Regions from separate parts of the Homo sapiens genome. Here region 1 is reported to be linked to region 2. The links are microRNA targets in miRTarBase. Many come from high-throughput screens and were not tested one by one. Region 2 holds a microRNA gene; the other region holds the end of a gene's coding sequence.
The links. Region 2 holds the annotated microRNA hsa-miR-1271-3p (AGUGCCUGCUAUGUGCCAGGCA, at 1,625-1,646, shown strand). A microRNA usually pairs through its seed, bases 2 to 8, with sites in the 3' UTR of a target mRNA and lowers its output. Matches are read on the target gene's strand: a 7mer-m8 pairs with bases 2 to 8, a 7mer-A1 pairs with bases 2 to 7 and ends in A, and an 8mer does both.

Region 1 (3,407 bases), not on the chromosome of region 2:
TGCTTATGGCAAGAGAAAAATCTTAGGTCTAAATAGAACCCTAAACTTTCTTGGCTGTGACCAACTTTTCTGAAGTACACCATCAGAGTTTTCACTGACTATCTATCTTTGCAGAGATGAATGAATGTACTGGGCAATTCCTCTGCCCAAGGAAACCCAGCAGGGCCTGGGTCTGCTGTACCACTGACCAACTGCTGGGGAGGCTAGGGGACCTGTCAGTACATGCTGTAAGGTTGGGAGTTCAGTCTAGCAACCAAGAAGGGGTTGCCTGGTGTTCTACAATGCCTATAGTGTTTTCAAAATGCCTGGGAAAAAATTCTCAAAAGAAGTGGCAGAATGGTCTTCTCACGGTATAAAACTCCGCAGGATTTTTTTTTTTTTTTTTTTTTTTTTTTTTTTTAAGGAAAAAAGTATACCTTTTAAGTTCAGCTTCCTTAACTACTGGCAACAGAGAGAAAACTCATAATTTGTTTTAAAAAGCCCAGTTACAGCTGCCCTGCCTACCCATGGACCATTGACTTCCCAGCACACTCTTAAGAATAATATACAGAGAGGCACCATTTTGCTCTGGGTCTTATGGAATCCTAGAGCTCTTGAATACGTTTTGGTGGTCCTACGGAGAGCTGTAACTAGCAGTGGAGTTGTTGCTTATTCCAGCTGTGTGCTTTTCACTTTCCGATCTTTGGACCCAGAGAATCATTTGCCATGGAATCATCTGGCTAGTAAGACACTCTTATATGGATGCAATACAAAAAGTGGTAAATTAAAGCAAAGCAATCATGTGGTCCTTACTCTAAAAGAGACAATATGTAAATGTACTATTATAATAAGGTAGCTCTGCAGATGTAATAAGCTACTCATAAATTATTTGGGTTTAAGAAAACTTAAGACTATGTTAAACTGGACAACATCTCCATCTTGAGTGAGAGTAATTAGTAACTAGGATGACCACACATTCTCCTAACACGGGCAACAGTCTAGTCTAATTGTTATTGCATTTCTGACCTGATTCTTTTAAAGGGGCATATATTCCCAATATATACCATTTAGAATGTATGTATGTTTCTTGGATGACTTAATCTGAAGCCATATAAGTCCAAAGTAGTGAGACAGACAGTATATCCTTGACTAAGTTATCAGGCTGTGTTCTCTGCTTATAAAATAATTTTTTAAAAAGCCTCACTTCACAGTCCTGTTCCAAAAATCTTTCTGTGAAAAAATTGAGGCCTATGTAACACCATGAATATAATCATGTTAGAACATAATCAGTTCTTGAATATTTATTTCCTTTAAGAGAATATCAAACTGATGTCACCAAATCTAAACCCACTTGAAGACCAATAGCTATTACAGTTGTACTACAGAATAGGTCAAAGTCACCGTTAGAAATATTACACTTTATTGAATTCTGGAGCAGCTAATCTACCCTCCCCTATTGACCAATGACAAGAATGGAAGAAAATATACAATGGTTAAAGAAAGAGTCTATAACCACTGTTTGTTTAAAATGTTGAAACAACTTTCACTGTACTGGTGAAACAGTTTTAATACCCTAACATACACAGTAATGATTCATTCTTGTTTAAAACAAGAGGTGATTTCGACTTGGGATTGGGATTTTTATTTTTTGAGATGGAGTTTTGTTCTTGTTGCCCAGGCTGGAGTGCAATGGCACAATCCTGGCTCACTGCAACCTCCGCCTCCTGGGTTCAAGCAATTCTCCTGCCTCAGCCTCCTGAGTAGATGATGGGATTACAGGCATGCACCACCACGCCCAGGTAATTTTGTATTTTTAGTAGAGATGGGGTTTCTCCATGTTGGTAAGGCTGGTCTCGAACTCCCGACCTCAGGTGATCCGCCTGTCTCGGCCTCCCAAAGTGCTGGGATTACAGGCGTGAGCCGCCGTGCCTGGCCTTGACTTGAGATTCTGAAGTGAATTTATTCACACTGATTGTGCCCTCTACTTTAGTAAGGTTCTGGCTTACAGAGCCCTCTTCCCATCCTCTGATGTTCAATTTTAATATACAGCAATCAACTCTTAGAGGACAAAGAAATCTGGAATTGGGTAGCATGAGCCACAGCTATATAGCCCACACTAATGCATGTTCTGTAGTATAAGAAGGCAGTTCTTCCCTTTCTTTTCTGGGGGCTTGTTCCTTTGTCCACTTGCAGCTAAATTCTTTCTATAGATTTATCACAGATAAGAAGGAGGTTGTTTTTGGATAACAAATAAGCATTTGTGCTATTAAACAAACAAAAGGTAATAAGGATACTGTCTTTTCCCTCAAAATAGAATCCTGCCCTAAAGCAACGCAAGTAGAGCATACTTCTGTGCAAAGCCAGTGATAGAGAAGCAGCCTTGCCAGAGTCACTGAGGATGAATTAAAGGCTTATAAAAGAAAACTTGACCTTAACAGAGACTACATTTGATCATGGAAATAATACATTTCTCCACTGATATACAATACCATGTAATGCACTGGAAAAGTTGGACCTTGGAGTAATAGCACAATTTGTAACATTACAGATCACCTCTTCCCACTCTTTGTTCCACTCTGAGACTCTTTCCTTTTCCTCGTGTATCCAGATACACTGACATACGGATGATTTTAAAAGTGTCACAAGCCACAGTGGAGCCATATACATGCAGTTCAGCCTGATTTTACCCTTATTTTCTTCTAATACAGACTCCATTACAATTTTGGACCATCTGCAGAGAGTACAGATACACAAAACCAAAACAAGTATCTATGATAATAAAATCTTCAGAAACTTTTCAGACGTACCTTTCATGGAGCCCCCTCCCTCCCCCGAGTAGAACCCTAACAGGGACCTCGTTTGTTCCTGTGAGTCCTGCCAGGACTTGTTTAATGGGTGCTTGGGGTTTTGGTTTTCCTCCTTATTCTTCCTCCTCCTCCTCCTCTTCATCATCATCTTCGTCATGGCAGTGTGTAATTTCCTGGGGGGCCAGTGGGAAGAGGTTGGGAGGTTTAATCTCACTAATTGACCGTGTCAGCTGGTGCCGCTTGTAGTCAGTGTCTTTGAAATCCACTGATGTGCGGTTCCGGGTGGCAAGAGGAGACTCCATCTCATTGATATCTACGTGTGTGTGCTCCACCGTTGATTCATGAGGCATCTAGACAGAAAAAAGCTAGAGGCTCAGAAAGCAGGCAGAGCAAAGTAGCTACTCCCCAAATCCTAACCCCTCTCCTCTGTTAGGTGGCCATGCAATTACATCTATAATGGACCACAGGACAAGTCAATATAGACTTATCTTCATAGAACTACTTATAGTTGCCTGTCTTCCTCTCTCCCTGCCCCTCAAAATGGTGCCCATATTGTCTACTGCAGCTGGAAATTGGAAAAGATGGAGAGGGGAGTTTACTTTCTATTTTACAGCAAAAACA
Region 2 (3,407 bases):
CCCCGCAGCCCGAGGACGAGGAGGACGAGGAGCCGGCGCTGGAGGAGCTGGAACAGCGCGAGGTGCTGGTGCTGGGGCTGGATGGCGCAGGCAAGAGCACGTTCCTGCGCGTGTTGTCGGGGAAGCCACCGCTGGAAGGCCACATCCCCACCTGGGGCTTCAACTCCGTGCGTCTGCCCACCAAGGACTTTGAGGTGGACCTGCTAGAAAGTGAGCGGACACCCTACCCCATCTCCCCGTCTCCTCTACTGGACCAGTCCTGGATTCTCTGCAGGGAAGGGGGCTTCCAAAATGCATGTCTAAGCAGCACATTCCCCTCTACGAATCCTTCCCACCGCTCTCCGGGGCACAGGATTCAGCCCACGCTCTGTGCTCTGACATTTAGGGCCCTTCGTGATCGGGCCTCTCCAGCTGCACCGCCTGCCCCATCACCCCTACCAAAGTCGATAGGCCTAACACAGAGATACTAACAGCTAAGGGTTCATATGCCAAGCACTTGACGGGCATTGCTTAAGAAAACTCCCCTAAACAATTACATAAAACTAGAATCGGTCACTACCCTCGTTATCTCCAGAGGAAAATGAGTTCCAGCAGTAGTATCATGAATCCAAGGTCACCCACCTTTCTAGTCTTTTTTTTTTTTTTTTTTTTTTTGAGATGGAGTCTCACTGTGACACCCAGGCTGGAGTGCAATGGCGCTGTCTCGGCTCACTGCAACCTCCTCCTCCCGGGTTCAAGCGATTCTCCAGCTTCAGCCTCCTGAGCAGCTGGGATTACAGGCGCCCGCCACCACGCCCGGCTAATTTTTGTATTTTTAGTAGAGACGGGGGTTTCACCACATTGGTCAGGCTAGTCTTGAACTCCTGACCTCAAGTGATCTGCCCGCTTCGACCTCCCAAAGTGCTGGGATTACAGGCGTAAGCCATCGCACCCCACCATTCTAGTTTTTTTTTTTTGGAGACAGGGTCTCTGTCGCCCAGGCTGGAATGGCAGTGGGCAGTGGCACACCCTCCTCCACTATTGCCTGTCTGGCCCAAACTAGTGTCATCTTTCCTCTCAGCACCACAGCCTCCTCTTTGGTCTTCCTGCTTCCCCTTCTGTCCCTAGTGTCAGCTAGAGAAAACCCATGTCAGGTAATGTCACTCTTGCTTAAAGCCCTTGGGGGGCTCCCCACCCCCTCACTGTGGTCTTTGGCCCCATGTGGCCCGCCCCAGCCAGCCTCACAGCCATCTCTTTCTCCTTCTTGCAGTGCCTCAGCACCCCAGCCTTCTTTCTGTTTCCCAGACACTTCCAGCATGCTCTCCCCTCTGTCTGGAATGCTTTCCTCTGCCTCTTCCCATGGCTGGCTCCTTCTCATCATCCCACTCAGCTCACATGCCACTTCCTTGATGAGACCTACCCAGACCACCCAATCCAGGGCCAACCCCTGTTCCACCTCAGCCACTTTCCCTTTTTTCTGTTTTATTTCTTTCCTTTTTGAAATGTGTTGATGTCATTGCCATGTCCTTCCCAGTTAGGGAGGGAGCTCCTTGGTGCAGGGCCCCTGCTTGCCTTGCTCACCTCTGTATCTGCAGCACCCAGATCAGTGCTTGGCACCTAGCAAGCACTCAGTAAATATTTGTTGAGTGCCTGCTATGTGCCAGGCATTGTGCTGAGGGCTTTGTGGGGATTCAGAGGTAAGTGCCTCTGACTCTCACAGCTTAGAATCCTCAAGTGTCAGAAACATAGCCAGAAACACTAGGGTGCGGGGTGACCAATGGGACTGTGCAGAGGAGCAGAGAGGAAAAGAAAGGTGATCCAGGCTGGGGGACTGTGTTGGCAACCATGTGTTCATAGGATGAAATATGACATTTCCAAGGGAAAAGAAGGGGATGGGGGAAACTGAATGGAGAATGGCTGTGTATAGGCAGGGCAGGGGGTCCTGAGTTTTCTAGACAATAGGACTCCTGGCTCCTGTCACAGCCATCACTGACAGTTTTGAACCTGTAGGAGAAAGCTAGGAATTAGCAAGAGGCAAAGCCAGACAACCCAGGGGAGAGAACTGAAGACTTCCATTTACTGAGCACCTGTGTGTCAGTCCCGTGAAAGGTACATCGCACGTGGTACCTGTGGGTTTTACTGCAACAACCCGTTAGGAAAGTTCAGTGAGGAGACTGGTGCTTAAAGCTAGGGACTTGCCCCAAGAGACCCGCCTATCAGAGCTAGAGCTAAATCCAGTCTGAGTAGCTGCGGAAACTGCGGTCTTTTCCTTGCCCCCGGCTGGTGGAAGCTCACTAAGCTAGAAGCAGGGTGGGGTGGGGGCTGTGGGCAGTGAGCGGGGGCCCGGGGTGGGGTGGGGGCTGTGGGCAGTGAGCGGGGGCCCGGGGTGGGGTGGGGGCTGTGGGCAGTGAGCGGGGGCCCGGGAGGCTCTGAGCTGGCCCCTGGCCTCTCCTCAGTTGGGGGCAGCCAGAACCTGCGCTTCTACTGGAAGGAGTTTGTGAGCGAGGTGGATGTGCTGGTGTTTGTGGTGGACTCGGCTGACCGACTGCGGCTGCCCTGGGCCCGACAGGAGCTGCACAAGCTGCTGGACAAGGACCCTGACCTGCCTGTCGTCGTGGTGGCCAACAAGCAGGTGAGGGCTGTGAGAGGGCAGCTCGGTCCAGGTGACATCCACTCAGAGATGCTTGGGCAGGGGCAAGGAGCGCTGCCTGGGCCCATGGCCTGGAGAGGGTGGCTGAGATGCTGCCCCCACCTCTTCTACCTATGCCCTGTCCTGATCCCTGCCTCTGTCTTCCTTCCTCTTTGCCTCCCTATCATCTCGTACTCTGGAGAGATGAGAAAAATAATTATTAAGTGCCTCCTATATGCCAGGCATGGTGTTTTGTTTTTGTTTTTTTTTTGAGACAGAGTCTTGTTCTGTCGCCCAGGCTGGAATGCAGTGGTGTGATCTCGGCTCACTGCAACCTCCACCTCCCGGGTTCAAGCAATTCTTGTGCCTCAGCCTTCCGAGTAGCTGGGATTACAGGTATGTGCCACCACACCCAGCCAATTTTTGTATTTTTAGTAGAGGTGGAGTTTTGCCATGTTGGCCAGGCTGGTCTTGAACTCCTGACCTCAAGTGATCCGCCCGCCTCAGCTTCCCAAAGTGCTGGAATTATAGGCATGAGTCACTGTGTCTGGCCCCCAGGTGTGGTTTTGAATAACATTTCTTCTTATGCTTCTGTTGACCCTATAAAGTATGGGATGCTATTCCCATTTTATAGATGGGACAGGCTAGTCTTATAATCTTTCCAAGGTTGTACATCTTGAGAGTAATAGAATTGGTCCAGGCGTGGTGGCTCAAACCTCTACCTCCAACACTTTGAGAGGCCAAGGAAGGTGGATCATTTGATTCCAGGAGTTCGAGACCAGCCTGGGCAACATGGTGA

Region 1: the mRNA of NT5C2 is a reported target of hsa-miR-1271-3p. Seed matches in the 3' UTR shown: 7mer-m8 at 1,905-1,911.

What each region holds. Positions count from the first base shown.
Region 1 is chr10:103,086,773-103,090,179 of GRCh38, forward strand. It overlaps NT5C2 (5'-nucleotidase, cytosolic II), which reads right to left. Exons shown (of 19, transcript NM_001351169.2): 19 at 1,266-3,136. The coding sequence ends at 2,900. It overlaps CNNM2 (cyclin and CBS domain divalent metal cation transport mediator 2), which reads left to right. Exons shown (of 8, transcript NM_017649.5): 8 at 1-3,407. Among named protein-coding and RNA genes, the nearest start is that of NT5C2, 100 kb to the right of the region's middle.
Region 2 is chr5:176,366,372-176,369,778 of GRCh38, forward strand. It overlaps MIR1271 (microRNA 1271), which reads left to right and starts at 1,575; the gene lies at 1,575-1,660. It overlaps ARL10 (ARF like GTPase 10), which reads left to right. Exons shown (of 4, transcript NM_173664.6): 2 at 9-210; 3 at 2,436-2,611.